Linked DNA regions of Homo sapiens: regions 1, 3 and 4 are each linked to region 2. The links come from fine-mapping of genetic effects on gene expression. A gene starts in region 2. Each other region holds a variant in brackets. All regions are shown on one strand. Distances are from middle to middle.

Region 1 (8,000 bases), 63 kb after region 2:
CATGAGCATGGAATGTTCTTCCATTTGTTTGTGTCCTCTTTTATTTTTTTGAGCAGTGGTTTGTAGTTCTCCTTGAAGAGGTCCTTCATATCCCTTGTAAGTTGTATTCCTAGGTATTTTATTCTCTTTTTAGCAATTGTGAATGGGAGTTTGCTCATGATTTGGCTCTCTATTATTGGTGTATAGGAATGCTTGTGATTTTTGCACATTGATTTTGTATCCTGAGACTTTGCTGAAGTTGCTTATCAGCTTAAGGATATTTTGGGCTGAGACAATGGGGTTTCTAAATATACAATCATGTTATCTGCAAACAGAGATAATTTGACTTCCTCTCTTCCTAACTGAATACCCTTTATTTCTGTCTCTTGCCTGATTGCCCTAGCCAGAACTTCCAACACTATGTGGAATAGGAGTGGTGAGAGAGGGCATCCTTGTCCTGTGCTGGTTTTCAAAGGGAACGCTTCCAGTTTTTGCCCATTCAGTATGATATTGGCTGTGGGTTTGTCATAAATAGCTCTTAGTATTTTGAGATACGTTCCATCAATACCTAGTTTATTGAGAGTTTTTAGCATGAAGGGCTGTTGAATTTTGTCAAAGGCCTTTTCTGCATCTATTGGGATAATCATGTGGTTTTTGTCATTGGTTCTGTTTATGTGATGGATTACGTTTATATATTTGCGTGCATTGAACCAGCCTTGCATCCCAGGGATGAAGCTGACTTGATCATGGTGGATAAGCTTTTTGATGTGCTGCTGGATTTGGTTTGTCAGTATTTTATTGAGGATTTTTGCATCGATGTTCATCAGGGATATTGGCCTAAAATTCTCTTTTTTTGTTGTTTCTCTGCCAGCCTTTGGTATCAGTATGATGCTGGCCTCATAAATGAGTTAGGGAGGATTCCCTCTTTTTATATTGATTGGAATAGTTTCAGAAGGAATGGTATCAGCTCCTCTTTGTACCTCTGTTAGAATTTGGCTGTGAATCCATCTGGTCCTGGACTTTTTTTGGTTAATAGGCTATTAATGATTGCCTCAATTTCAGAACCTGTTACTGGTCTATTCAGAGATTCAGCTTCTTCCTGGTTTAGTCTTGGGAGGGTGTATGTGTCCAGGAATTTATCCATTTCTTCTAGATTTTCTAGTTTATTTGCATAGAGGAATTTATAGTATTCTCTCATGGTAGTTTGTATTGCTGTGGGATTGGTGGTGATATCCCCGTTATCATTTTTTTATTGCATCTATTTGATTCTTCTCTCTTTTCTTCTTTATTAGTCTTGCTAGCAGTCTATCAATTTTGTGGATTTTTTTAAAAAACCACCTCCTGGATTCATTGATTTTTTGAAGGGTTTTTTGTGTCTCTGTCTCCTTCAGTTCTGCTCTGATCTTAGTTATTTCTTGTCTTCTGCTAGCTTTTGAATGTGTTTGCTCTTGCTTCTCTAGTTCTTTTAATTGTGATGTTAGGGTGTTGATTTTAGATCTTTTCTGCTTTCTCTTGTGGGCATTTAGCACTGTAAATTTCCCGCTACACACTGCTTTAAATGTGTCCCAGAGATTCTGGTACATTCTGTCTTCGTTTTCAGTGACTTCAAAGAACATCTTTATTTCTGCCTTCATTTCGTTGTGTACCCAGTAGTCATTCAGGAGCAGGTTGTTCAGTTTCCATGTAGCTGTGTGGTTTTGAGTGAATTTCTTAATCCTGAGTTCTAATTTGATTGCACTGTGGTCTGAGAGACAGTTTGTTGTGATTTCTGTTCTTCTACATTTGCTGAGGAGTGCTTTACTTCCAATTATGTGGTCAATTTTAGAATAAGTGCAATGTGGTGCTGAGAAGAATGTATATTCTGTTGATTTGGGGTGGAGAGTTCTGTAGATGTCTATTAGGTCTGCTTGGTCCAGAGCTGAGTTCAAGTCCTGGATATCCTTGTTATTAACCTTCTGTCTCGTTGATCTGTCTAATATTGACAGTGGGGTGTTAAAGTCTCCCATTATTATTGTGTGGGAGTCTAAGTCTCTTTTTAGGTCTCTAAGGACTTGCTTTATGAATCTGGGTGCTTCTGTATTGGGTACATATTAGGAATGTTAGCTATTCTTGTTGAATTGATCCCTTTACCATTATGTAATGGCCTTCTTTGTCTCTTTTGATCTTTGTTGGTTTAAAGTCTGTTTTATCAGAGACTAGATTGCAACCCCTGCTTTTTTTTTGTTTTCCATTTGCTTGGTAGATCTTCCTCCATCCCTTTATTTTGAGCCTGTGTGTGTCTTTGCATGTGAGATGGGTCTCGTGAATGCAGCACACTGATGGGTCTTGACTCTTTATCCAATTTACCAGCCTGTGTCTTTTAACTGGGGCATTTAGCCCATTTACATTTAAGGTTAATATTGTTATGTTTGAATTTGATCCTGTCATTATGATGTTAGCTGGTTATTTTGCCTGTTAATTGATGCAGTTTCTTCATAGCATCCATGGTCTTTACAATTTGGCATGTTTTTGCAGTGGCTGGTACCGGTTATTCCTTTCCATGTTTAGTGCTTCCTTCAGGAGCTCTCTTGTAAGGCAGGCCTGGTGGTGACAAATTCTCTCGGCATTTGCTTGTCTGTAAAGGATTTTATTTCTCCTTTACTTATGAAGCTGAGTTTGGCTGGATATGAAATTCTGGGTTGAAAATCCTTTTCTTTAAGAATGTCGAATATTGGCTCCACTCTTTCCTGGCTTGTAGGGTTTCTGCCAAGAAATCTGCTGTTAGTCTGATGAGCTTCCCTTTGTGGGTAACCCGACCTTTCTCTCTGGCTGCCCTTAACATTTTTTCCTTCATTTCAACCTTGGTGAATCTGACAATTATGTGTCTTGGGGTTGCTCTTCTTGAGGATTATCTTTGTCTTTGTGGTGTTCTCTATATTTCCTGAATTTGAATGTTGGCCTGCCTTGCTAGGTTAGGGAAGTTCTCCTGGATAATATCCTGAAGAGTGTTTTCTAACTTGGTTCCATTCTCCCCATAACTCTCCGGTACACCAATCAAACGTATATTTGGTCTTTATCCATAATCA[C/T]ATATTTCTTGGAGGCTTTGTTCATTTCTTTTCACTCTTTTTTCTCTAATCTTGTCTTCTTGCTTTATTTCATTAATTTGATCTTCAATCAGTGATATCCTTTCTTCCACTTGGTCGAATCGGCTATTGACGCTTGTGCATGAGTCACAAAGTTCTCTTGCTGTGGTTTTCAGCTCCATCAGGTCATTTAAGGTCTTCTCTACACTGTTTATTCTAGTTAGCCATTCGTCTAACCTTTTTTCAAGGTTTTTAGCTTTCTTGTGATGGGTTAGAACGTGCTCCTTTAGCTCAGAGAAGTTTGTTATTACCAGCCTTCTGAAGCCTACTTCTGTCAATTTGGCAAACTCATTCTCCATCCAGTTTTGTTCCCTTGCTGCCGAGGAGCTGCGATCCTTTGAAGGAGAAGAGATGCTCTGGTTTTTGGAATTTTCACCTTTTCTGCTCTGGTTTCTCCCCATCTTTGTGGTTTTAACTACCTTTTGTCTTTGATGTTGGGGACCTGCAGATGGGGTTTTGGTGTGGATGTCCTTTTTGTTGATGCTGATGCCATTCCTTTCTGTTTGTTAGTTTTTCTTCCAACAGGCCCCTCAGCTGCAGGTCTGTTGGAGTTTGCTGGAGGTCCACTTCAGACCCTGTTTGCCTGGGTATCACCAGCAGAGGCTGCAGAACAGCAGATATTGCTGCCTGATCCTCCCTCTGGAAGCTTCATCCCAGAGGGGCACCCACCTGTTTGAGGTGTCTGTCATCCCCTACTGGGAGGTGTCTCCCAGTCAGGCTACACAGAGGTCAGGGACCCACTTGAGGAGGCAGTTTGTCCCTTCTCGGAGCTCAAACGCCATGCTGAGAGAACCACTGCTCTCTTCAGAGATGTCAAACAGGGACATTTAAGTCTGCAGAAGCGGTCTGCTGCCTTTTGTTCTCCCCAGTTTATGTTTTTGTATGCTTTGTCGAAGATCAGTTGTTTGTAAATATTTACTTTATTTCTGGGTTCTCTATTCTGTTCCATTGGTCTACATATCTACTTATATGCCAGTGCCATACTGTTCTGGTTATGATACCCTTATATTAGTATAATTTGAAGTCAGGTAATGTCATGCCTCTAGATTTGTTCTTTTTGCTTAGGATTACATTGGCTATTTGGGCCTTTTTAAAAAAATTCCATATGCATTTTAGGATTTTTTTTTTATAATTCTGTGAAGAGTGATGGCATTTTGATAGGAATTGCATTGACTCTGTAGATTGCTTTGGACAGTATGGTCATTTTCATGGTGTTGATTCTTCTAGTCTGTGAACATGGGATGTATTTCCATTTGTTTGTATCATCTATGATTTCTTTAAGCAGTGTTTTGTAGTTCTCCTTGTAGAGTTCTTCACCTCCTTGGTTAAATATATTCCTAAGTATTTTATTTTATTTTGTAGCTATTATAAAAGGGATTGAGTTCTTAATTTGATTCTCAGCTTGGTCATTGTTCGTGTGTAGCAGTGCTACTGATTTATGTACATTGATTTTGTAACCTGAGGCTTTACTGAATTCATTTATCAAAGCTAGGCGCCTTTTGGAGGAGTCTTTAGGGCTTTCTAGGTATAAGATCATATCATCAGCAAACAGAGATAGTTTGACTTTCTCTTTTCCAATTTGGATGCCCTTTATTTCTTTCTTTTGCCTGATTACTCTGTCTGGGACTTACGGAAGTTGCTAATTTGTTTTTAAACTATATTTCTGGAAGATAAATCTGGTAGAAGTTACAATCCACCAACTGCCTGCAAGACTCTGCTTTGCATCTATGAGACTCAATAGGAATAGTTCCTGTGGAAGCTTCTGTGTTCACTGCTCCTTTAATAGGCTCTAGAACTGTAACTTCCCCAGATTTCAAATGCAGGAGCCTTTTGTCTAAACTGCTTCAGTGTGCTTACTCTGATGAGTAAGGAAGCTTTTGGTACATAGATGTGGGTAAGGGAGAATGCATGTGTGTATATATATGTGTGTCTCTGCCTGCACAGAGCATTGGAGAGTAGTAGTCCTAGAATCCGTATTTCATTTACCAAATAAATAATGGTTCAAAGTGGTTAGTTGAAAAAACAAAAACCACAGTGCTTCACTAAATCACAGTAGGTCCAATAAATTTAGACCTTATTGATTTCTATTGGGTGGCCTGATGGCCTAACTGCCCTTTAGAAAATTATTTCAGTGAAAAAATGTGATCTGAGTTCTAGGAAGCCGATTTACAGATGAGCTTTTAGAACACAACCCTTCTGTAAGTTGGGGAATGCCTGTAGTGTGTAGCACTATTCATGCAGCACTTTTGAATAGAATGAAGCATTTTATGAAAAACCAAAGACAAATATGAATTTATTGGTGTATTCCAATGCAAGCAATTCTGTTCAACTAAGTAGAAAATATTACTTCTAAATTCAGATTCCATTAACTGCTAGACTTAATGCACCTGTTATAAGTGACTTCTATTAGGAAAACCAAGAAAGCTTTTGTATTTTTAGATATTTTTTGCTGCATGAAACAATCACTATTTAACCTTTTATCTTTCCTGGGCTGCCAGTTTTCTCTATAGTGATTGATAAATGTTACTGACTGCTAATGGGGAGAGGAGGGTCAGTGCCTGGGGAGAGAATGAATAAAGTAGGATTAATGCACAGGATATCCAAACATAGTTCATATGATGTACTAGAACTCTTAGTTTTGCTTATATCAGAAGCAACTCATTTACTGTGTTTTTAGGAGATCATTAGATTTTTAAAAATCTTTCTCTTATTTAAAATCTTAAATTTATTCTAGTATACTACAAAATATAAAAAATTTTCCACCAGAATTAGAACACTTCTGTTTCTTAGTTTGTAGAATCCTCCTTTGTAATTATGCCAAGAATTTTTCATGAAAAATTATTCACTTTCAGTAAAATTATAAAGAAGCATTGATTCTTCATTTTTAATGCACTATATTTTGCATCTGAATCTAGCTTTAAAGGATGTACTGCTTTTATACCATGCTTCTGAATCTTGTATTTGCTTGAGTTTCTTAGGTTTTAGGTAACATTTTAAAACATCTTTCATTATGAAAAATTGCAAGCATGTACAAGAATAGAATAGTACTCATGATCCAACTTCAACAGTTGTCAACTCAGGGACAATTTTGTTTTAATTATAACCTTCGTTACTCCCCTTCCCTTTTTTTTATATGCAAACATTTTACTGAAGTCTAATGTACGTATAGAAAAGTACACAAATCATGTCTACAGCTTGAGGAATTTTATACATCCTCTTGTATTATCTTGAAGCAATTGTCATGCTTTACCTATGTATTTCATCCTTATATTTTAAACAAATGCCATTACAAAGACCATGCTTGTATAATGAAGTTATTTCCATATCTTTGGTGTATTGATAACTAGTTGTAATAAACTTTCCAAAATAATCCAGAATAATACTATAAAACAGTTTGATATGGTTTGGCTATGTCCCCACCCAGATCTCATCTTGAATTCCCATGTGTGGTGGGAAGGACCCAGTGGGAAGTAGTTGAATCATGGGGGGCAGGTCTTTCCTTTGCTGTTCTTGTGATAGTAAGTCTCACAAGATCTGATGGTTTTAAAAATGGGAGTTTCCCTGCACAAGCTCTCTCTCTTTGCCTGCTGCCATCCGTGTAAGACATGACTTGCTCCTCCTTGCCTTCCACCATCATTGTAAGGCCTCCCCAGCCATGTGGAACTATAAGTCCATTAAACCTCTTCCTTTTGTAAATTGCCTAGTCTTGCATATGTCTTTATCAGCAGCATGAAAACAGACTAATACGCAATTGTTCCTCATAGTGAAACTATCTGATTGTTCTTGACATTTTAAGCAAATAGGAAGTGGGGAGATAAGGAGTCCATGCAGTAAGATGTCTATAGCTCCTTTTCTACCATAAACAAATAATTGTTGTTTAGGTGATTTGTCTTTAAAGCACTCTATTTGTCCAGAAAATTTACCCAAACCTTCAAATTACTTTCAAGTCAAATCACATAGCTTGTGAAGAACTCCAAGAGGGTGACAGGACACAGTGGCAGTAAAGTTAATATTTTTCTTTTTCTTTTTCTTTTTCTTTTTCTTTTCCCTATCATAGGCAGTAGGACTTGTGACAGGCTTTTCTAGGTAGGAAAGAAAAGAAGGAAGGGAAGAAATAAATAGCAATAGATGACTCAATACATACATACATATATACATGTAAAGCAGAAGGGAGGAGAAAGAAGCTGAGGGAAAAAAGGATGGATAAGGAGAGAAAGCCTGCAGGACCTCGGGGTATTGTCTGGTCCATGGTGTGACTGCACATAAGAAGAGCACTCTCGGGCTGGGCGCAGTGGCTCATGCCTGTAATCCCAGCACTTTGGGAGGCCGAGGCAGGCAGATCATGAGGTCATGAGATCGAGACCATCCTGGCTAACATGGTGAAACCCTGTCTCTACTAAAAATACAAACAATTAGCCAGGCGTGGTTGCAGGAGCCTGTAGTCCCAGCTATTTGGGAGGCTGAGGCAGGTGAATGGCCTGAACCCGGGAGGCGGAGCTTGCAGTGAGCAGAGATCTCTCCACTGCACTCCAGCCTGGGTGACAGAGTGAGACTACGTCTCAAAAAAAAAAAAAAAAATGGAAGAGCACTCTCTATCCTTTGAAAACTCACTGGAGATTCTGGACGTAAGAACTGCTTCATTTCTTTCTCTTGCCCATTGGAAACAAGCTTTCTAGAATACATTATAATTAAATTAAATTGTACAGGTATAATGAAAAAATTAACAGTGTTCCATGGAGATCTCTTCCATGAACTCCTGCTTATTTTTAATAACATCAGTATCTTTAGGGAAAGTAAAAATGTGAGCAACCAAATGGGTAGGTTAGAGAGTGAGAGCAGGGGAGGATGTGGAATCCACGCTGCTCACCCCGAGATGCTCTCGTGGCTTCAGCAGCGTGG
Region 2 (8,000 bases):
GTAAGGCTGAATTGTATGTGGGTAATGTACTCTTTCCCAGTATACTTGTGAAGCCTACAAATGGGGGTGGTTGTGAAAAAAGAAAGGTTTGGGTTGACATTTAGCATGCTAGATGAGTCGAACCCCTTAAGCAAAGAATTATGATAGACAAAACTAACCCAGAGGAGGATGTGAGAGGGGCTATGGTTTGAAGTTATGTGCCTAGCTGTCAGACGGACACATCGTAATTTTTTAGTATTTATTTGTACACATAACACTATTTTGGGTGGGAAGATACAAAAGCAATAGAAAAAGTCCACCTCCCACCCCCCGCCTCAAAAGAGTTCCTGAAATGGCTGATGAGTCAGCCCTACTCACTGAGTTTGCATGCAGAAGGAAGTCAGGCCAAAGGTTTGGTAAAACCTAAGTCAGTATCTCCTGGCTCTAGGACTTAACCCAGTTCCTAGCAGAGTAAGGTATAACTGATGGCCACAGAAGTGTACAGAAATAATAGCAGCAACTAACATTTATTAAGTGCTTCCATTATACATTTATGTGCTATATACTTTACATCAATTATTTCACTTAATTCTTAAAACAACCTTGTAAAGTAGGAAGTTTTATTATGGCTCTGAACAGAACCATCATACAGAGAAGTTAGCTCATGCTGAAGTGTACTAAGGGTTTTTTGTTTGTTTGTTTGTTTGTTTTCTGGAACCCTTCACTAGGCTGCCAAGACACCTGCCTTGGATCTCCTTCTACTTCCCTGGTTGTTCCTTTACCATCGCCTTTGCTGAGTCCTCCTCCTCTTCTTTTTTAATGTTGGAGTGCCCCAGGGCTTACTTCTTGGTCTACTTCTTTTCTCTAGCTACATAATCTAGTTGATCTCAATACCCATCTGTATACTAACAACTTCCAAATTTATATCTACCCCAGATACATATATCTAATTGTCTACACCTATCTTCACATGGATGTTTAACAGACATCTCAAACTTACCATATCTAAATCAGAGTTTACAAATACAATCTCCACCCCGCCCTCCAATATTTGTTCTTTCTCAATATCCCCAATCCCAGTAAAGGGCAACTCAATTCTCCCCAGAGATCAGAACAAAACCCTTAGGATCATCTTTCTTTTATATGCTAATCTGTCAGCAGTTCCTGAGTACTTTACCTTCTAAACAGATTCAGAACCTGTTCACTTTTCTCAGTCACTCGGACTCTAATCCAAGCCATCCTTACCTTTCATCCCAGCTAGGCTAATCTCTTTGCTTGCTCTCTTGCCTCGCTATGCATGTTGCCCATACAGCAATCAGTCATCTTTTTTTTTAAAAAAAACTTTGTATTATGAACTTTTATTTATTTATGAATTTTGAGACGGAGTCTCGCTCTGTTGCCTGGGCTGGAGTGCAGTGGCCCGATCTCGGCTCACTGCAACCTCCGCCTCCTGGGTTCGAGTGATTCTCCTGCCTCAGCCTCCTCAGTAGCTGGGATTACAGGCACCCACCACCACACCCGGCTATTTTTAGAAGAGACGGGATTTCGCCATGTTGGACAGGCTGGTCTTGAACTCCTGACCTCAGATGATCCGCCCGCCTCGGCCTCCCAAAAAGTGCTGGGATTACAGGCGTGAGCCACCGCGCCCGGCCCATTATTATCTTTTAAAACATACACATAAACACACATAAATGATGACCACCCCTATGCACCCAACACTTAGCCTCAAAAATTAACATTTTGCAAATATTCATCTATTCACTTCTCTGTCCTTTTTTTTTTTTTTTTTGAGACGGAGTTTGTTTCGCTCTTGTTGACCGGGCTGGAGTGCAATGGCACGATCTCGGCTCATCGCAACCTCTGCCTCCCTAGTTCAAGCGATTCTCCTGCCTCAGCCTCCCGAGTAGCTGGAATTACAGGCATGCACCACCATGCCCGGCTAATTTTTTGTATTTTTAGTAGAGACGGGGTTTCTCCATGTTGGTCAGGCGGATCTCGAACTCCCGACCTCAGGTGATCGGCCCGCCTCGGCCTCCCAAAGTGCTGGGATTACAGGCGTGAGCCACGGCGCCCGACCTCTGTCCTTCTTTTTGTGGGATATTTTCAAACAAATCCCAGAAAAGTCATCCTTTTAATGATCAGATCAAGCTACTCACCACTTTCTAATTGCTTCTAATCTCAGTAAAAGCCAAGTCCTTTATCACGGCCTGCAAGGCCTGGGTGATCTGTGATTACTCCTCGCCACACCCATTCCTGCCGCCGTCCTCCTGACCTCACTCTGCTTCATTAGAGGGTCTCCCACCCTCGCGGCCCCAGCAAGCATCATCTGGAAAGCTTGTTAAAGCACACGCTGCTGGGCCCCACCCCCAGAGTTTCTGGTTCAGTAGGGCTAAAGTGGGACTGGAAAATTCGCATCTCTAACAAGTTCGCAGGTGCTACTGCTTCCAGCGGGCATACTTGGAGAACCACCAGCTGCACTGTTCTCCTTCCCGTTCCTCAACAAGGCAGGCAGGATCTTGCTTAGCAGTCTCCACGCTGCTCTTCCCTCTGCCCTAGGCATTCTTTGCATTACTCAAAGCCCCTGTTATTCCATCTCTTTAACTCATGCCTTTTGAGAGGCCTTCTCTGACCACTCTTTCTAAAATCTCTTTCCCTCTCCTCATCCTCATTTATGTTTCTTCATGGTAAGCATCACTTACTGTTTCCGTCACCCCGTCTAGATGGACAGCTCCACAAGCAGAAAGACTTGGTTTTGCTGTCACAGCCGCAGCACTAAAACCTTGCTTAGCAGGTGCTCACTTCACTTGTCCAAGGAATGGCTAGCATACTGAGGAGGGAGAGCCTGCTTCCTGCCTGGGACACTGGACAGGCAAATCACTTCTTCTTGCCTCAGTGCCACCCTTTGTAAGGACACTGGTTGGTTATGCCTACCCTTCCCATCTCCCTGGGTACAGGCACAAATGAAAAGAATAACGTGTACACGCCCGCGAAGCAGAGCAGCAAGTGGATACCGAGCATTATTACGCCGTGCGTTCGGCCGCCCTTTTTCTGCACGGAGAACCCCCTCCGCTCCCATTTTCCAGCGCCCCCGTCCCGGCGATCCAGAGACCCGCTGTGGGCGGCCGCCGCCCGCGTCCCGGCCTGCGGGCCAGCGTCTGGGCACGCCCGCCCCGCACCCGGCTGGCGCCCGCCCGCCCGCCTCCAGAAGCAGAAGCGGCAGCGGCAGCGGCAGCAGCAGCAGCAGGAGGAAGGGGAGGCGCCGAGGGAGGGGTACTCGGCCGCCGCGGGAGGCCGCATCGCAGTCCCGTCACAGCGTCGGCGCCGGCCGGGGCCGAACCCGGAAGTGGCCGAGCCCGCGCGCCCGCCGGTCCCGTCGCCGCCGCCCCGCACTCGGGCGAGCGCGGGAGCCGCGCAGTAGACGGAGCGCGCCCGGCCGAGCGGGCCATGGCCGCGGGGGCCGCCGCCGCAGGTGGTGGCGCGCGGTGAGGAGAGCGCGGCGCCCCCTCCGGGGCGGATGGAACGCGGCTCGGCGGGCGGGCAGTGCCGGCGTCCGCGGCTGGAATGGTGCTGGCTGTGTTGGTCGGTGCCTGCGTTCTGAAGCCCGAGAGGAGCCACAATGGAGACGCCGCCGCTGCCTCCCGCGTGAGTGAGCGGGCGGGCGGGCTGCGCCGCTGCGGATAAGCGCGCCGCTGCGGCGCGTGTCGCCGGCCGCGGGCGCAGCTCTGGGGACAGCCGCCGGGGCCGGCGGGAGGTGGGAGATGCGGGGCGTGACGAGGCGCTGTGCCCGCAGTCCTGAGCGGACGCGGACGGAAACTCAGCCTGGCCAGGCGGTGACTTAAAACGCTGCCCAGGATTTCTGGGGAAGGGTCTTCCCCATCTCGGGCGGATAGAAGATTCGGGGTGGGGCTGTGCATGGGTGACCCTGCAGGTCCTGTGTGTACCTCCCTGAAATGCATGGGCACCTGGTGCCGAGTTTGCCTACCCCTTTATAAGAGATCAGGCTAGGATGCACTGAGTCCGTTGAAAAAAGGAAACTGGAAAGTACCAGTCACCCGCTGTCTAAATGAATTGATCTTAGGTTGCTTGATTCCCCGAATTTCTAACAAAATTAATATCTGAGGAGCTTTTGCATCACTCTAAATGAGCGGCGGCCGTTCAGGGCATGTGACCTCTTTTACCTGGCACTGCAGAACGTTTTATCCAGAAATCAGCATCTTCTGTTTCGTTCGTACCTCGGGCAAATTAGTAGCGTATCGACCTGCCAGGCACAGGTGTCTTTTTTCTTTGGTACCCAAGTACATTCAAGATCACTGGCAACAGAATTACTTTCTAGAAATAATAGCTGAAACATTATGTAGAAGACATTATTGCATTATTCAGAACAAGGGTTTTTTTTTTAAATTTTAGTTTTTAGTTTTAAAAACATCTTGGTAAAAGTGAACTGTAAATACCCAGGAGTTTCGAAAATTTCAATTTTGGTTCCCTCTTCTCTTAGGAAGGAACAAGAGTCCTTTGAATCTGACTTTTCAAATCGCAGACAAACCTCATCCTGAAGAATGGTTTACCTTTTCATGAGAGCTTATTCATGGAGGCTTGTCGTTCTCCGGTCAAATTTGGCAAGCTTCACTCCATGCCGATTGTACCGCACCAGTCTCTTGTGGTTATTTGGCAGAATTCCAGCCAAAATAAGGATACTTGGCTTGGGTTGAATAATTTTTTGATGTTCAGCCCTTTTAGGAGAGCTAATGGGATTCTGGAACGACAGTTTCTAAAAGTGCGTTTCAGAATTTTTAGCTTGAGTGGAACAGGTCGTGGAAATCTAGGGGGTAGATAAGACTCTTGAATTGGCCTTCCTGGGCTGACAGAAGCAGGGGCTTAGTCACCTCTCGATAGCTGTGGCTTTGAGGGCTCTGAGATTTGGTCATGTTCTTCAGCAGGCTGGAGGAAGGCACCTGAACCCCTAGGAAATATGATGGTGGATGGTTCACATCAGCAGCATGAGCACACGGGGGTCTGCCCAGGCTCAGAAGCACTTAAAGCAGGATATGCTAGCTGTATTTAGCCAACATATGGTATATAATATGTAACATGTAGGTATGCTATCTGTAGTAAACCTGCCTTCTACATAAGTTCCTGCAGTTCGTTTTTACTTTTGGAACAGAGGGAGCTAAAGGAAAGAACAAGGGAATACTTAGAATGCAGGTGAAAAGAAGGGTGTGGGAAAGCAGCCTCTGGAGGGAGGGAGGGAATAGAGACACAGATGATTTAAATTGAAATAATAAAAAATAGAATTGATGTATGCATTGAAACATTGATAAACTGACTCTAGGGTAGATCAGCTAATCATAATTTTGATGACCAGCGCCATTTTTGGCATTGAGATTCCATCAATAGTGCTGGAACAATGAGAGGCTGAGATATAATGGAAAACTTGGAATGCCAGCATGGATGAAAGAATTGTTAAAACTCCTTTCAATCAGGGGTGGCTAAAGTTGGTGAGACTTTTTCATTGTTTCTGTCTATTTAATTATAAATACAAGTAGGTTTTTATTTTCATTTGGTTCTGTCCAGGATTAAACCTAATTCAAGAACTCGTTATGGTGTTATTTGCCATTCTGTGGATCAGAAATAGTTTTTTTCCTTGCCACCCCTTGGCCTGTTTGCCTCCACTCCCATTAACATCCCTCCACCATGGATCCCGTGTGCCGGATTTGAGACTTGCAGGCAGTGTCTTTAGGAAGGAACTTTACCGGGCCTCACTGCCAGAGCTGGGCTAGAACAGAGGCCAGTGGAAACTATTAGGAAGACTCAGCTTTTCATGAAGTTAGATTTTTAGCCTGAGCTTTAAGTCAAAGAAAGATGACCTGGACTTAAAGTGCCTTATGGTATGGTTGGAAGCACGGCCCCAGATTCTCTTTGTGTAAGTGTCTGTTTATTAATTCATTCAATGTGCAAATATTTGAATGCCTGTCTCTGCCTGGCACTGTGCGTGGTGCTTTTGCTTGTGTTCTCTTTTAACATCCAAATTTACATTGTTCTCAGATCCCACCTTGTTCTCCACTGGCCTGTTGGCACATTGTCTTGGAGGGAGGTCAGGCATCTGTACCCACCATTCCTGGTTCCTTCAGGATGGACTCCTTGAAATTAGCTTTTGATCTTTTGTGCTTTTTCTATTCCTTGCCTCCAACTTTCATCCTTTTTAATTCTCATATAATTAAAAATTGTCGTTGGACTATATATTTGTGCTTATTGTTTTTTGCATACTTGAGTATATGTGGCATTTAGATTCTGTTGCATTCTGGGTCTGGGTGATATTGAGACTGTGTTACATTTGCTTCTGATCAAACCTGAAAGATGTGTAACTAAAAGATGTAGCTTAGTAAAGGAATTTCAGGTAGTAAATTGAGAGATGTAGTTTAGATGTAGATTAGTAAAGGAATTTCAGATGGTAAACTGAGATGTGCAAAAGGAAATGTAAATTGACCAGCCCTGACCTCAGGAATGTATTTTACAGTCTGGCTTTTATAGTTATTTGTATAAAGGATTTTCATAATAAGTTGAAGGAAGACTGTGAGGTATAGGCCTGAGTGCATCCCTCTGATCTTCTCTTACTGATCAGTCTTCTTGGCACTTGTTTTTTTACTGGCTCCATTTTCACAAGTCGGCTTACTCTCTGTAAGCCTTGATTTTTTTGCTTTTCCTTCACAAAACTAAGCAAACATCCCTCAGATAGAACCATATCTTTTTTCAGTTGATGGTTCCACATTACTAGAGACTTGTCGTCAGAGGTGGTCATGCATAGGCAGAAAAACAACTTGTTGACCATGTTCTAAGGCATTTAGGCAGCAGAAAATTGGTTGGATTAGAGCAGAGGTTCTCACATTTTTGAATTTAACTGACCTGTAAAATTAAAAAAAGAAAAAAACAATTGAAGTCTAACAATTGCTAAGTTTTTTGTTTTGCTAAGTAAAAGAATTATTTATGAAACAACAATGATCAACTATCACCATCTTTTTATGAAAGAAAAAAACATTTTAGTATCCTTCCTCAAATATAAGGAAGAATATAATCTGACTAAAGGATTGTCTTTAAATTTAAAAAACTTAGCCTTATGAAAACTTATTACATTGTCCTCATTTTGACATAGATCAGTAAAAAGTTCACTGAAGCCTGACATTTGCAGTCCGCTGGACCGGATGACCTTTAATGTTCTTTCTAAGATTCAATTGCTGTGAATTTGGAACCTTGCTACAGGATACCCAGTATTCATTTGTTTGTCTGTTATAGTGCATTGGAGTGTATTCTTATTTTTGTTTAACTAAATGTACATTGGGCATCTCTCATATCACAGGTGAATCTCCCCAGTGATAGACAAAGACATTTAAAATATTTAGGAGTAATAATGGCCCACAAACAAGGTAATGGTGAAAGAAGACATGTGGATCAATGTGTGTTGAAGGAAGTGTTACATATAGAGACAACTTTGAGGTGCATTTGGGAACTTGAGAAGTGAATTCTGGAAATAGGTAGCATTTATGTAGTAGTTTAAAAAATTTCTGATGCTGGGAAATCACTCCACCTACTCCCTGCAAAATGCCCCAAACCTTTTGTTTCTGATGTACATGGTAGGCATGCAGTAACTATTAGTAAATGTGCTTTTCTGAAGGTGACTGTAAGTTTACTCATCTATGGCTGTTACGGATTTACACTAGTAGTGCTTATGAAGACCACTGAACTTCTTTCTTAAGATCAGGCAGGTTTTTTCAAGGTGATCCAGAGAAGGAAATTCACTTTATGTTGCATTTCTGTAGTGTTCTACCAAATCCAAATGCATTTACTCTTTATGATGAGGTAGTTTGAGTTTTTAATTTATATTTATTGAGTGCCTACTATGGCCAGATTTTGGGGATATCTCAGAAAACAAAGTTCCTTTTCCTATGATTGAAACTAATAGCAAACAAATATGTAATATTGTTAGTAGTATTACAGTAAACAAAAATGAAGCAGGATAAAAGGGTAGA
Region 3 (8,000 bases), 100 kb after region 2:
GTTGTCCAAATACCCCTTATTGACTTATCTGTCTCCATTCATTTGATGAAATGCTGCCTTTATCATGTATTAAATTTCCACATTTACTTGGTTTTATTCTAAATTTTCTGTTCTCTTCCATTGATTTGTCTTGCCTATTCATGCATCAAGACAAAGCCAATTTTAGTTACTGAGCTTTATAATATGTTTTACTATGTTATGAAACTAGTGATAGGACTCCTGTCTTCTTTTATATCCTTCAGTAGATTTTTAACATTTTCTTCCAATGGTCCTCTGTGTTTCTTGGCAAGTTTATTTTTAGGTGTTTTATCTTTATCGTTACTATCTGAAATGGAGTCTTGTATGCCATTTACTAACTGGTTTCTTAATTCATATCTGATTCCTAATACAGTTCCCTTTTCATTGAGGCCATAAGTCATTTGACTCATTTTATTGCAAAATGTATTCTTTACTTATTGGGTAACTATGAATAAATTTTATCTTCATCATGCCCTCTTTCCTCTCCCTCCTTCAGATTAGAGCCAATGTCCTTAACTGTGTAAACTTGGCCAAATTTTAATAAACTGTGTAATTAAACTTCTGGGCACTTCAGTTTCCTGATAACTTTGGGAGGTTATCATACTTCTTTTAGTTCAGTCCCTTCTCCAGACCCAGAGCCTTTGGTAGGGGGCACTTCATAGATTGATTCATTTATTTTCTTCCTCTCTGTGACCTAAAATTCTCTAAACCTTGGTAAGCATACTATGTTACTTCTAAGAGATGGCATATTTGTAGTGTTATTTTGTGGGTAGAGAAAGGAAAATGAAAATTGCAATGGGCAAGATTCCCACAATGAACATTCCCTGGAGTTAGTTATGATTTTGGGATACAGGATTGTTTCATGCTGAAACATGCTGCCTGGTATGTTGCTGCTCACGAGTCTCCAGGCCCTCTTAGGATGTCTGTTAAATTCTGTGCTAGCAGGGGGCCAAAACAGGCAACTTCATCTGAACTGGAAAGGTCTTGTTGCCATATGGAGGACTGCATTTCCGTGTATTTTTACAGGGGTGGGGGAATAAAGCACCAGAGGTTAAGACAGTAAGGGGCAGAGGTACATCTCTTGCCTGATAACATCTGCAAAACATTGAGCTCGTCAAACATATCTGGTGATTCCAGTTCTCCCTACAGGGATTCAGAGAACTGTGAGCCACATTGCCTGCCCTCAGGCTGGCACAGGGACATAAACATTATAGAACTAAGAACAATAAAAATTTGAACAATTTAAAGTAATTATATTATAGACGGTACATTTATTAAACCTGAAGTACACAACATAGATGTTATTTGCTATAGGGTTCGGGAGCTGGACATAATCCCTTTTAGGCTAAAGTGGACAGGGAAGGCATCATAGAGAATGTGGAACTTTAACTGAGGATTCAGAGTTAAAGAGAACAGAGTAGATGGTGATAGGAGCCTGTCCGATTAGGACAGCAGCATGAAAAAAGTTGAGAAAAGTGAAAAGATGGTTGAAACCTGAGTCTAGCAGTCTAGTTTCTCCATTCACTGATTCCGTAATATCTCTTTAGCCCAAGGATCAGCAGACTTTCTCTTGAAGGACCAGAGAATAAGTATTTTAGGCTTTGTGGTTATATGGTCTCTGTCACAGCTTCTTATCTACTGCTATAGTGCAAAACCAGCCATATGTAAATGAATGAGTGTGGCAGTGTTCCAATAAAACTATATTTATGGATGGTGAAATTTGAATTTCATATAGCTTTTTACATGTCATGAAATATTATTCCTCTTTTGGTTGTTTTTCAGCCATTTAAAAATATAAAAACCATGCTTAGCTTATGGGTTCTACAGAAATAGTTCGCTGGACCAAATTTAGCCTGTAGCTGTAAATTTGCCGACCCCTGATTTAGCCCACTAACATGATAAACTAGGAATACGTTATGCAAATAAATTATAAGCGTATGGAGTTTCATTCTAAGAATATCCACTAGAAGATCCAAAATTGAAAGCTATGGGAGGTGAGTACAGGTTCAAGTAGTTGGAAAATAATGGCTCATTATTTAAGCTTGTAAATTGATATTTAAAAAAACCAAGAGTCAACATGGTACTTTAGCCCATGCCATTGCATTTTTTAATAACCTTAGAAAGAAGGCCAGGTGCAGTGGCTCACGCTTGTAATCCCAGCAGTTTGGGAGGCCAAGGCGGGCAGATCACGAGGTCAGGAGATCAAGACCACAGTGAAACCCCATCTCTACTAAAAATACAAAAAATTAGTTGGGTGTGGTGGCGGGCGCCTGTAGTCCCAGCTACTCAGGAGGCTGAGGCAGGAGAATGGTGTGAACACGGGAGGCTGAGCTTGCAGTGAGCTGAGATGGCGCCACTGCACTCCAGCCTGGGCGACAGAGTGAGACTCCGTCTCAAAATAAAGAAAGGAAGAAATAATAATAATAATAACCTTAGAAAGAAAGACAATTTAGTGATTGGATGTTCTTGCAAATGAATAGCATTTTCAAGGATTTATTTAATCAGGCTCCTCCTAAGAGTAGCATGTTCTGACAACAGCTATAGATTTATCAGAAAGCAATCTTTGGATATTGGTGGTAGTTGAGTTGCATGTTGATCATTAAATGCTGTACTCCTTTTGCAGGCATGGTCTACATGGCTGGACTTGTTTTTGCTGTTGGTGGCTTTAATGGCTCATTAAGAGTTCGCACTGTAGATTCCTACGACCCTGTGAAGGACCAGTGGACCAGCGTTGCTAACATGAGAGACCGGAGAAGCACTTTGGGAGCTGCTGTGTTAAATGGATTATTATACGCTGTGGGAGGCTTTGATGGGAGTACAGGTAATTTCCTTTTCATTTATTCTACATTGCTGCTAAAATTAACGTAGTAGTCATGTTTATGGAATAAATTGTGGCAACATTAGGGCACATGTGAGGTTTTTTGTGTTTTTTTTTTTTTTTTTGAGATGGAGTCTTGCTCCGTCGCCCAGGCTGGAGTACAGTGGCGCAATCTCGGCTCACTGCAAGCTCCGCCTGCCGGGTTCATGCCATTCTCCTGCCTCAGCCTCCCGAGCAGCTGGGACTATAGGTGCCCGCCACCACGCCCGGCTAATTTTTTTTGTATTTTTTAGTAGAGACGGGGTTTCACCATGTTAGCCAGGATGGTCTCAATCTCCTGACTTTGTGATCCGCCCACCTCGGCCTCCCAAAGTGCTGGGATTACAACATGTGAGGTTTTAACTGGTATTTAAAGATAAGTTTAAAATTTTATCAAGAATTTCCTTAAATGATATGAGTGGTGAGTATATAAATTTTCTTTCTTATGCATCAGTATCAGTCATCAAATTTTAAAAGCTTATAAATATCAGTAGCTTAGGTAGGAGCCTTCTGGAAAACAAGCTGTACCTGTTTTTCATGTAATTGCTGTGTTTATGTTCCACCATTTTCTTCTCTTAATTTTAGCCCAGTATAACATACCTGAAGTATTTTTCCATATATATGAACTATTGACATTTTTTAGAGAAGGAAATGAAGACTATTGTGCTTTATTATAGGTTTGTCATCTGTGGAAGCATACAACATAAAGTCTAATGAGTGGTTTCATGTAGCTCCCATGAATACAAGGAGGAGCAGTGTTGGTGTGGGTGTTGTTGGAGGTAGGTGTTGACAGTTCTTTCAGGTACATGTGGCATTTTGATCCTTGAGAGTGGTTCTTCCAGTAATCTCAACTTTAGTTTTCTGAATGGGCAAGCTAATTATCATTTTAAAAAGAAAAGTCGTAATTACTGTAAAATTTCAGTTATCCTCTTTTTAAAATTAGCTTCTCTATATAAATCAACCTATATAAAGCCTTTTCTCTCCCTCTCTATCCCCCTCCCTTTATCCCTCCTCCTTTCTCTCTGTGTGTGTGTGTGTGTGTGTGTGTGTGTGTGTGTGTTTGACTTATATAACTGTGTGTGTTTGACTTATATAACACGTGTGTGTTTGACTTATATAACAGCAGTCCCCAACCTTTTTGGCACTAGGGACTGGTTTTGTGGAAGACAATTTTTCCATGGACAGGGGTGGGTTGGGGGGATGGTTTTGGGATGAAACTGTTCCCACCTCAGATCATCAGGCATTAGAGTGTCATAAGGAGTGCACAACCTAGGTCCCTCAAATGTGCATTTCAAGATAGGGTTCACACTTCTGTGAGAATCTAATGCCGCTGCTGATCTGACAGGAAGTAGAGCTCAGCTGTAATACTTGCTCACCTGCCGCTCACCTCCTGTTGTGCAGCCCGGTTCCTAACAGGTTCCAGACAGGTACCGGTCCATGGCCTGCGGTTTGGGGACTGCTGCTGTATAAGACTGTCAACTGATTTTAACAGTTGCTTGGGGGAACAATTCAGGTGACATAAATGTGTAATTTTATATCTGGAGAAGGGCTGTTAAGGGATGGATTGCCACAGTTATTTATTTATATCCTACTTTGTCTCCCAACAGAAGTTAAGGAAGGCTCTAAGTATTATTATTATTATTTTTTTTTAATTGACTTGGGCAAATTTGCAGGTTTCCACCCCCTCCTCATCGTAGGTGTAATCTGTGCACTTAGAAAAAAACAGCTTTATTGTGATATAATCCACATCATACAATTCACCCATTTCATGTATACAGTTCATTGTGCATCCATCACTGCAATTCATTTTAAAACATTTTTATTATCCTCTAAAAGCAATCCTGCTTCCCTTGGCTCTTACTCGTATCTTACCCAACCTTCAGCAACTGCTAGTCTACTTTCTATCACTTAGAGATTTGCCTCTTCTGAATATT[T/G]TAGTCATACAGTATGTGATCTTTGGTGACTCACTTCTTTGGCTTAGGGTGATGTTTTCAAGATTTGTTTATTTATACTGAGGCATTTATTAGTACTTCATGCCTTTTTAATGCCAAGTAATATTGCATTGCATTCTGTTATTAATTTTTGATTTAACCTTTTTTCCGATTTCCTAAGATAACTTTGGTATTTAATTCTGTCTTACAGGATGTTGTTCACTTATCAAATAGTGTTACCTAAAGATATAATGAGTGTGCTATTTTATCAGATTATTGATGAAAGTATAAAATTAACATCATCAGCTATACCCTGCAGATCTTCATAACATGATTTGATTACCCCATCTGTCACCATTAGGCAAGACCCTAATATATTTCATAAAAATCAGCAGCACTTTAAGGGGAAACTCTGCTGCCATGAAGGAAAATATATTAATATTTTCTGGCTTGAAAAATTAGTGTTTTTTGTTTGTTTGTTTTTTAATAAATTTGGCTTTCTATGTGATTTTATGTGTAGGTTTGCTCTATGCTGTAGGAGGTTATGATGGAGCATCACGTCAGTGTCTTAGCACAGTAGAATGCTATAATGCTACAACAAATGAGTGGACCTATATAGCAGAAATGAGCACCAGGCGGAGTGGAGCAGGTACATGTGAACCTGTTTTAGCAACTGAAGCACAAAAATGATGGAAAATAGTTAAAGTAAAATGATTCAGTGGCATCACTTTACATTATCTGAAAATATATGATATGCTGATTTTAGTGGCACTGCTAAATGTCTTTTGAATTGTGCAGGTAATGGGAGTAATTACAAAGTAATTTTACTTTAAAATTTAATGTCTAAGTGCCATAGACATTTCTGTTTCATTTATATATTCAAGTTGTTAGCACTCCTTTTAGTTTTTTGTTTTTAGTGCTTATTGGGGAACTTGCTTAATAATCAAGTCTTTTCATGTATATTTCTTAAAATTTTGTGCTTTAATATGCGGTTATTTTACTATGGATATTGTTTTCAAAAGGATTACATTAAAGGACTTTTTCCCTCCCTGTGTTTCACCTACATGTTATTAATATTTTTATTCTGTTTGACATGCCTCTTTTTTCAGAATAATAGTTTGTTGAGATGCTTATTTAATCATCAATTGTATTGATTTCCATTTCTTAAATTGTAGGCTATAGTATCAGCTTGCTTTTATTATGAATTATAACTTCGAAAGTTTTAGTTACAAGTCATTTAAATAAACCTAATATGATATAAATCTCTTGTTCTTTTTGCCCCTCTATTTGGCTGGTTGTGTTTTATAGGTGTTGGTGTGTTAAACAATTTATTGTATGCTGTAGGAGGTCATGATGGCCCTTTAGTACGAAAAAGTGTTGAAGTATATGATCCCACCACTAACGCATGGAGACAGGTTGCAGATATGAACATGTGCAGAAGAAATGCAGGTATCTGTCAGTTTAAGGTTATAAAACTTATGTTGAATTTTATTTTAAGTTTCACTGGTATCACTCTATCAATGAATATCAATGGTATTTCCATTGTTCTTTTACTGATCTGGGTTCCCTGATAGACTCTGAACTCTTTAAAGCCAGAAACTTATGTAATAATCCTATAAAGTGAATGCCTGCCATAGTCTCTGGAACATAACAGGTTGTTGTGACACTTCAGTAAACTCATCATTTCTACTAGCTGCTACTTTTTGGTGATAAATGTGGAGACTAATTAAATTAGGTGTAGACCCTTTAAATGATACTGAATTCATTCATTCTTACAACAGATATAATTTAGTGCCTACTATGTATCTATCATACACTGGAGATCCTAGTTCTCAGGAAATTTAGTCTAGTTGAGTAGATATTTATACTAGGTTAAAAAGCTAGTTGATTATCTAAATCTAGAGGGGAAGTCTGCAAAGGTAACCCTAGCTTAATACAGTTCAGGATTTCCAGAAAAATGGAAAAACTAAAGCAACAACAATAACAACAAATAATTTTAAGAAAGTAGAGAACTTCAAGATTAGGGAACTAACCACTTAAAAAGAAGAATCAAGAAAGGGAAATACAAATGGAAAATAGACTCAAGATAGCTACATAGCCTTTCAGGAAATGCTAGGATTCTTCAAAATGCCATTATCTTCATGTCATTTCTCATAGTGTAAAATAAGTTCCTGGTGAGTCTCAAACTTACTGTACACCATTGGACACCCCCCTCCATCAGCGCTCATCTTAGTTTCTCTTTAAAGAAGGGTGATTACTAAGAGAGACTAAGTATGTGGAACTGCAGATACTGTTGGCAGCAGACCAGAATTTATAGTTAATTCTGTTTGGCCTTGCACGTCATCTAGTCAGTTGTATATGGTAATCAGTTCGTTAGATGGTAAGACCCTCAAATATGGGTCCTTAGTAGAATAAGTGACTCCAGTATACATTAAGTTAGAAAAGCCATGGTGATTTGTGCATGTGTCTTCCTGGATTAGGAAATTTAGTTGCAATTTGAGCTTTTTATGAATATTTTCTTAAAGGTTAGACTAATTTATTTTTTCTCTATATGTGTTTATTGTTTTCATATCAAAATTCACTCATTTAGGTAGAAGAATAAAGAGATAATTTGTATATATAGAGCTACCATTATCCTGTTCTTCAAAAAATTGTGTGGGAAAGGGTAGGATTTAGGAAAAAGACGTAAGTCTCTGTTGAAAAGTTGTTTCATATTTTGATTTAGACAACATTACTTGAGTTTATTTGATAATCAGGAAGAGAGAGAAATCTGAAAGCTTACTTTTCAGTTTGTTTTTCCTTCTCAATCAATGATGTTTATTTTCTATGCAAATAACAAAATTTGAATTATTTACTTCTATAATTTACAAGATACAGTATAATCCAATTGAGCATATATTTTAAAATTATTTAAGTTCATAAGAGTATTTTAAAATCTCACCCTCATTCCATATTCCTGATAATCTGAAACAAACTTCTGATAAGATCTGTTCAGCTCTTCCTTTTTAATAACCTAGGCTAAGGACCTCATCCAAGCACCTAAATTATTGGAAAGAAAGAACTAAGCTGGCAAAGAGTGGAGGACATGTATTCAATGTTAAGCGGGGAGAGGTGAAAGCATCCATATAAATTTGAAATAGCAAGCAGCTTACAAGCCAGATTTCAAAAGTTTTCATAAGTATGGTAAATTATGA
Region 4 (8,000 bases), 320 kb after region 2:
GGTAGTAGCAGTGAGAATAAAAATCAAGAGCCATTGTGCACCCAGCGTGGTGGCTCATGTCTGTAATCCCAGCACTTTGGGAGGCCGAGGTGGGCAGATCACTTGAGGTCAGGAGTCCCAGACCAGTCTGGCCAACATGGAGAAACCCCATCTCTACTAAAAATACAAAAAATAAAAAATAAAAAAATGAAAAAATTAGAAGGACATGGTGACAGGCACCTGTAATCCCACCTACTTGGGAGGCTGAGGCGGGAGGATCGCTTGAACACAGGAGGTGTAGCTTGCAGTGCACCGAGATCATTGTGCCACTGCACTCCAGCCTGGGCAACAGAGTAAGACACTGTCTTAAAAAAAAAATTAAAAAGAGCCAATGTGAAGAGAGAATCTCTGTGACAGGTGACATTAGGACAGGGCCCTAGGTCCCACCTGCCAAGCTGCTACAGCAGGATAAATGAGAGTCAGGTCCAGTCCCCACTCAAACACATGCCTACTACTGTCCGCACACAGGAATATCTCCTGAATAGAGTGCAAAATTCAGTAAAGTCAGAACTAGAGTCAAATTTCTAGGTTCTCATGGGAAGTCAATTCATGAGATTTCATAATGTAGGCTGTAGCATGGGTAGCCCACTAAAAGTACAAATAGACATTCAGTTGAGTTAATTTAGCTGGGAGGCTAAAGTGAAGGCCCAAGGAGGCAGGAAGGGTAAGAAAAGTATCAGAGTGAAGGCGCGTATATCAGAACACCCAGGGCTGCAAAGACATCTCATTTACTTGGCGTCAAATACTTGGGAGTATTCATTAATGCTTAAAGTACTTAACAGTATTTTCTGCCCCTTTCTCTACCTAAGTAGGTTATAGGTTAAGGGAGTTAAAGTTAAGGCCCTTCAGAGGATGTTTAAATGACAGCTTGCATTCCTCCCTCAAGAGTATGAGTTTGTGGTAATAAACGCCCTCAGTAGATGTGTTTCTGCCTCCAATCATTAGCCTCCTTCTTGTCTTTGCCCTGTAGGCTTCATTATCACTTTACTGATAAATACAGGAAAAAGAGAGATAAAGATGACCTTTATTACATCATTTGTGGTCAATATTGGAAGCAGAGTCCTCTGGTTACATAACTTTTGGTCAGGGGTGTGTTGGGGGTAGAGGTCTTGACATCATGCTCAGGGAGCTGAGTGCGTCTGTAAAGTCTCCACCACCCATGACTTAATAAGTTGGGCATTTTATTCACTCAGATTTGGAGGCTTCTCAGCATATTCCTGTTGTCAGAACTTATATTTCAGCAGCATCGCATGATATTTCACAGTGGAGGAAAGAGCCTAGAGCTCTGCTAAGCAGCCGTTCTTTTTAGGAGCTCTCATATGCGTAAGGAATACGGAAGTGCTGTGAAGAATGTAAAGCTCTAAAAGTGTCAGTAGTTACCCCAGAGACATGGGCAGAAGCTAGGGAGTCAGGAGAATCTGTCCTCAAGTTGCTGCTTAATAACGTGCTTTGTTCTACAAGGCACTGGTGATCCTCTGCAGGGCCAGGCCTCCTAGTCAGTCATTCTTCTCCTGGCTTACTGCACTGAAGCCATTCTTTCTCCTGTTCGTTGGAAGACATTTGGGATTCATTCCTTTGACTGGAAACTAGGCTGTCCTTTTCCCCATTAGCCACTTTTGTCTTCACATGGTGGTTTTTCCTTGTCCTCTAGCTTTCAGTTTTATGTTACTTTCTCAGAGATGCCATGCCTGGCACAAAAAGTAGGCATTTGATAAATATTGACAGGATGAATAAATGATTTGTGGTGGTTGAAAGAGGTGAGTATATGAAGAATGTGGCAGAATGTCTGGTAAACAATAGGGCTCCTGAATTATTAGTTTTCTTACTCTAATGTTCAGAGTGATTCTGAAATGGTCTGTAACCACACATGAAAAGTCAGCTTTGGTTGTAATCCCAATGATATGCACAGCCATTTAAAAGGTTTTGAATATGTTTAAAAATATTATTATGTTTTAATACAAACCACACACACACACACACACACACACATACACACAGACACACACAGAGACAGAGAGAGAGAGAGACAGAAAGTCTTTTCTATATTTTTTAATGGATATTTTCTTTGTATTATCTTGCATGGAGTTCTCTGAGCTTCCTCTGTGGCCCGTTTGTTTTTATTAATATTGAAAAATTATTAATCATTATCTTTTCAAACAATTCTTCTACCTTGATTTTCTCTCTTCCTATTCAGGGGCTCCAATTACCTGTGTTTTTTTTTTTCAAAATATTTAATATTGTTTCGCAGACCTTAGATACTCTTTTCATTTTAATTTTTCCCTCCTCTTAGTGTTTTAGTACATGCAATTTTAATGACCTATCTTCAAGTTCATTTCTTTTTTTCTCTGCTATGTCTGGCCCATCAAAGGAATTTTTCATCTTTGGTATGGTGTTTTTCACTTGTTGCATTTTCCTTTGGTTCTTAAGAGTTTCTATCTCTTTACTGAAATTCTTCATCTGCTTACACATATTGTACAACTTTTCTACTAGATCATTTAACATATTAATCACAGTTATTTTAAAGTCTCAGTCTGATAATGCCAACAACTTAGGCCATTTTTGGGTGTGATTCTGTTGGCTCTTTTACATTTTGACTATCTATTATTATTTTATATCTTAACAATGGGTCCATTTTTTTTCTCGCTCTTTTGGAGGTTGTATAATTTCTGATTAAATGCTGGACATGTGTATAACAGAACAGCAGAGATGGAGGTAAATAATTTTTATGTCCAGAAATGAGTATGCCTTTTCGCCTATAAAGCCGTGTGTGCGTGCATGTATGTGTGTGTTTGTGTGTGTGTTTGGGGGGAAGAGGAAGAGGTTGATTCTGTCTAGACTGCAGGTGAGCTGGGTTTGGGCTTTGTTGTTGCTTTAGTGCAATGAAGTCTTTAAATTCCTTTAGTAGGGTACAGCTACTGCCCTGTGCTTAGTATGAGACATGGAGCAACAGAATTTCTCTCAGTATTTTTGTCCTACCTCAGATTTCAGTAGCACCCGTATGACTCTGCTATGGAGGGGATCTCTCTTCTTGCCCTTCTGTTAATAGCAGATGTCTGTTCTTTGGTATTTGGGGTAAGACTTATAGTGAAGAGAAAAAATTTCTTGGTTTTCCTGTCCCGGTTTCAGTCTTAGGGAGGCCCTATGTACCTAAATCTTAGGGATAGGACTTTTTTCAAAATTCTTGATTCTCTCCAATAGCAAACATCCTCTGCTTCCTTCTTGGTATAGGGTCTGGAATACAACTGGGCTTCCTGTGTCTTCTCAGGGGCAAAGAAACACTGTCTTGTATCAGTGCAGAGTCTTGGATAAGTGGATTTCTTGCCTATATTCCTCCCGTAACAGCAGCAGATGGCTTCTGCCAGCTGTCAGTGAAGTACGTAGGACAGGTGGGTTTTGTGCCCTTCCTTCATTGGCAGATGGATTTTATTTGTGATAATAAGGGTAATTTGTAGTGACAAATT[A/G]TTGTTGTTTTTTCATAAATTTGTGCATACTCTCCCAAGAATTCCTCAAAGTAAATACTAAGATTTGTGGGCTGACTTCAAACTTTTGGAAAAGCAAACCATTCATCCAGATCTTCCCCACAGCTCTTAACAACTAGATTGTCTTTGTAGAATAGTTATAGTTTATTTCATCTCTAGTTCTCATGGTTCTGTTTATCTTAATCTTGCCCTATGCTGCTGGGTGCAGAGTCTTAACCAACTTTTCACTTAAAAGGGGTGAAAATTACTCAAAGACATATGAATGGATGGCATTATTCTTCATTTATGGACATCTGAAAGTTGGATTATATATTGGGTACATTTAAGTTAATACAAAAAATAATTGATTTAATGTTTTTGTAGTTTTAAAATTAGATTTGTGGACTAGGAAGAAGTAGGGAACATGGGAGATTTTTCGAAGTGTAGTGCTTGGTTGTTCTGGGGAAGTTAGGTAGATGAGGATAAAAAAGTCTTCCGTGCTTCTTAGAAGGGCAAGGCAGTTCTGTCATGAAGGAAGACAAATGAAAAATTGCTTTACCACAGGCTCAACTCCACGTAATGCAGACAAATTCACATTTGCATATTTCTGGGGCAACCAAGGTTAAGATTTTTAAGATTAAGATTTTAACTAATTTCTTTTTTTATTTTTACTTTTTAAACTTTTATTTTAGGTTCAGGACTACATGTACAGGCTTGTTATATAGGCAAATTGCATGTCACAGGGGTTTGTTGTACAGATTATTTCATCACCCAGGTAGTAAGCATAGTACCTAATAGGTAGTTTTTTGATCCTCACCCTCCTCCCACTATCCACTCTCAGGTAGGCATTGGTGTCTGTTGTTCCCTTCTTTGTGTCCATATGTACTCAGTGTTTTGCTCCTACTTATAAGTGAGAACATGTGATACTTGGTTTTCTGTTCCTGTGTGAGTTTGCTTAGGATAATGGCCTCCAGCTCCATCCATGTTGCTGCAAAGGACACAATCTTGTTCTTTTTTATGGCTGCGTAGTACTCCATGGTGTATATGTACCAAATTTTCTTTATCCAGTCTACTATTTTTAACTGATTTCTTGGAAGATTGGCTTCTGGTCTGTGCTTTATCTCCTGTGAGATATTACTTTTTTTCCTGCTAATGATCTTCAGATATAGTTCTTACCTTTCCTTTTAGGTACCTACTTCTGCAACTTGGATCATACTTCTAGGTCCCAGGTTTGTGGCCATGAAAGGCTGATGCACAATCTCAGATTTAATGAAATGGTGTCATGTGTCTCTTCAATAACATCCCTGTGTGTATAAGTTTTTAAATAAAAAACATAGCACTCTTCTTTTTGTGAGAAATAAGGATTTATCAATTTGAAGAGATAATAAATGATGAGTTCCTTACCAGTTAAACCTGTTTCTAAAATAGAGATCTCTTCATAACTCATGGTCTGGCTTCTGTAAGTTCCATGCTGCTATAAACTGAATGTTTGTGTCCTCCCTCCCCACCAAATTCATACGTTGAATTCCTAACCGCCAATGTGACGGCCCTTGGAGATGAAGTTATGGGTAAGTGGTTAGGTCATGGGGGCAGAGCCCCCATATGTGTGATTAGTGTCTTGAAAAGAGACTACAGAGAACTCATTTTCCTTTTCTGCCATGTAAGAATACAGCGAAAAGATGGCCATATATGAACCAGGAAGTGGGCCCTCTCCAGACACTGAATCTTTTGGCACCTTGACCTTGAACTTCCCCTCCTTCAGAACTCTGAGAAGTAAATTTCTGTTGGTTATAAGCCACCTAGTCTATGGTATTGCTTCCTGAGCAAACTAAGACACAAGTCTATGTTTTTGGAAATGCACTGTCCTGCACACAGTGTAAATCCATGGTAAAAATTTTTAAAATGATTATCATATTTAAAACTGCTTTCATTTACCTTTTTCATACTTCACTTAATAAAACATGACCTAGAAATGATAAAAATGAAAGGCAGCATGCTTTTTTAGTAAAAAAGTAAGACGAATATGCTCTGAAAACTTTCAAAGTTAATATAAATGCAGTGATGGTCATTAGATTTCCACTGCCTTGAGCTTCACTGTGGAATTCCCCTAGCTTTCAGAGGAACTGCTGTCCAACTTGGCCTTTCAGTTGGTGTCAAGAGGTTTTGATTTCCTTCTGAAAGGCAAACTGAGTCCGACGGTGTACTTGCATTCTGTTATTCTTTCTTGCTCTCCATCATTTGTCTTTATAAGGATGTGTATTTTCCAAGGGTAGGCACACACACATGAATAGCCAACAGCTAGGCCATTCCTCCAAGCCATCCCTGCTCTCCTCCTCTTTACTTCCTGAATTACTCCAAATTTTTGTATTCTCACAACCTTGTAACTGTCTCATTGAACATACCACACTTCATTACATTTTTCTTTATATTTTTATATTTCCAGTCTAAGCTCGATGGCAGAGACCATGCCCTATTCTTTTTTACTGACAAAGCCTAGCATAGCTGTTTCTCAAGAAATGTTTGATTTACTTAAGCGCTTATAGAGGGCATTATCTATTGGAGGGAGTAGTGTAGGGGTGAAGAAATCACAGATTTCTTGGATACTCTATTATCAGTTCCAGATCTTTCATTCACTGTGTTTACTTTTCTAAACCTGATACATAAATACTAATTTGTTACCTGCAGAGCAAAGAGTTAGAGCAGTTGGCATATAACCCATTTCTACTACTGATTATGAGAGAAACACACCCAGAGAAACAAGAGAAGGCGGGCCACCCAGTCCCATCTCCTCAGAAACAAGGTATTTGAGGCCTGGCACGGTAGCTCACGCCTGTAATCCCTGCACTTTGGGAGGCTGAGGCGGGCAGATCACCTTAGGTCAGGAGTTCAAGACCAGCCTGGCCAACACAGTGAAACCCTGTCTCTACTAAAAATACAAAAATTAGCCAGGCATGGCGGTGGGCACGTGTAATCCCAGCTACTAGGGAGGCTGAGGCAGGAGAATTAGTTGAATCCAAGAGGCAGAGGTTGCAGTGAGCCAAGATCGTGCCACTGCACTCCAGCCTGGGTGACCGAGCAAGACTCTGTCTCAAAAAAAAGGAATAGAAAAGAAACAAGGTATTTGGATGTTTTAGTCAGTTTGGGCTGCTGTCATAGATTACCACAGACTGGGTGGCTTAAGCAACAAACTTTATCTATCAGTTTTGGAAGCTAGGAAGTCCAAAATCTAGGCATAGGAAGATTCAGTGTCTGTGAGGGCCCACTTTCTGTCTCATAGATGGCTATCTTTTTGCTGTGTCTTTATATGCAGAAAGAGGGCTAGAGAGCTCTCTGAGGTGTCTTTTACAAGAGCACTAATCCTATTCATATGGGTTCCACCTTAAGGACTTAATTACTTCTCAATTAATAGCAGCCCAGACTGACTGAAACATCCAGACACCTTGTCCCAAAGACTCCATTTCCTGATACTATCAAATTGAAGTTTAGATTTTCAATGTATACATCTGGGGAACACACATTTATTCCCTATCTCCAGACCAGCAGGCAAATAGACGAGTGATACTTGCTAAGAGGGAGATCTTTTGTCTATGATACACATTGAGCAGAATGTCTCTGGTTTAGGGTTGCTTAGGGTAAACAATCTTATATATTATCTATACATGTATGAGGCATAGCTATCTCAATAATGTTGCACAAGTTGCAAAAACACTCTGGGTTAAAATGAAGATGTTTCATGGCTTAAATTCTCCCCGCTATGTGAGGTGACCTGCAAACTTCATTAGAGAACTCACTTATCACTCTGGGCCTGAAAGTCTAGACGACTATGAAAAAGAAAGAGCCAGAACATGTGGGATGTCTCGTACCTGTCATTGCTTTGCTTGTGCCCCTTGATTGCTTGTATCCTTGAAATTATTAATTAAGTTTGACATTGGGTAAGTTCTTTGAGTCACATGATTCTGATTCAATAGCAGGACCTTTTGTGTCAGCTCACTACCTAGTGGAATTCTTGTGAGGATTGACTGATTTAATGCAGATCAAGTACTTAGTACAATACCTGGCACATATTAAGTGCTTAAAGGTTTGCTATTATTATGGGCACTCATTAGTAAGAGTAGTAGTAATAGTATAGGTAGTAGTAGTTGCGGCAGTAGTAGCAATGGTGATAGCGTGGGCTGAAATGACTGCTGGTTCTTTATACTGTACACACATATACGTCTATTCTGTATCAGCAACAGTAGCTGCTAGCTGTAACTCAATGTTTACCAGCTCAAAGCTGTACCTCAACCTCATTTAGTGGCTCAATTATTATTTATTACAAGCTTGTGGTTTGTCAGACACCGTTCTAAGCTCTTGAGGCCACATACTGGAGGGGGAAAAATGAAAATTTAAAAATGAACATATAATACACCTTTGCAGGTAGTGTAGGTGATATGAAGAAAATAATGCGGAGTAAAGATATAGAAGGAGATGAGGGGAGAGTTTGGAGCTAGGGAGGGGTGTGAT

What was found. PIP is the estimated chance that this variant, and not a neighbour inherited with it, causes the effect. A credible set is the group of variants that fine-mapping cannot tell apart.
Region 1: its variant is the best candidate, but not a certain one, in a credible set for the expression of KLHL2 in whole blood (INTERVAL, PIP 0.80).
Region 3: its variant is the best candidate, but not a certain one, in a credible set for the expression of KLHL2 in whole blood (INTERVAL, PIP 0.77).
Region 4: its variant is the best candidate, but not a certain one, in a credible set for the expression of KLHL2 in whole blood (INTERVAL, PIP 0.74).

The regions. Positions count from the first base shown.
Region 1 is chr4:165,266,947-165,274,946 of GRCh38, forward strand. All of the region lies in intron 5 of KLHL2 (kelch like family member 2), which reads left to right. Among named protein-coding and RNA genes, the nearest start is that of GK3, 8.8 kb to the right of the region's middle. The variant C/T (reference allele first, on the strand shown) is at 3,045.
Region 2 is chr4:165,204,282-165,212,281 of GRCh38, forward strand. KLHL2 (kelch like family member 2) reads left to right here and starts at 3,280. Exons shown (of 15, transcript NM_007246.4): 1 at 3,280-3,621. The coding sequence starts at 3,596. RefSeq lists an enhancer at 2,901-3,401 and a silencer at 2,932-3,581.
Region 3 is chr4:165,307,912-165,315,911 of GRCh38, forward strand. It overlaps KLHL2 (kelch like family member 2), which reads left to right. Exons shown (of 15, transcript NM_007246.4): 10 at 2,642-2,839; 11 at 3,553-3,654; 12 at 5,327-5,455; 13 at 6,115-6,255. Among named protein-coding and RNA genes, the nearest start is that of MSMO1, 16 kb to the right of the region's middle. The variant T/G (reference allele first, on the strand shown) is at 4,810.
Region 4 is chr4:165,523,807-165,531,806 of GRCh38, forward strand. No RefSeq gene overlaps it. Among named protein-coding and RNA genes, the nearest start is that of MIR578, 140 kb to the left of the region's middle. The variant A/G (reference allele first, on the strand shown) is at 3,501.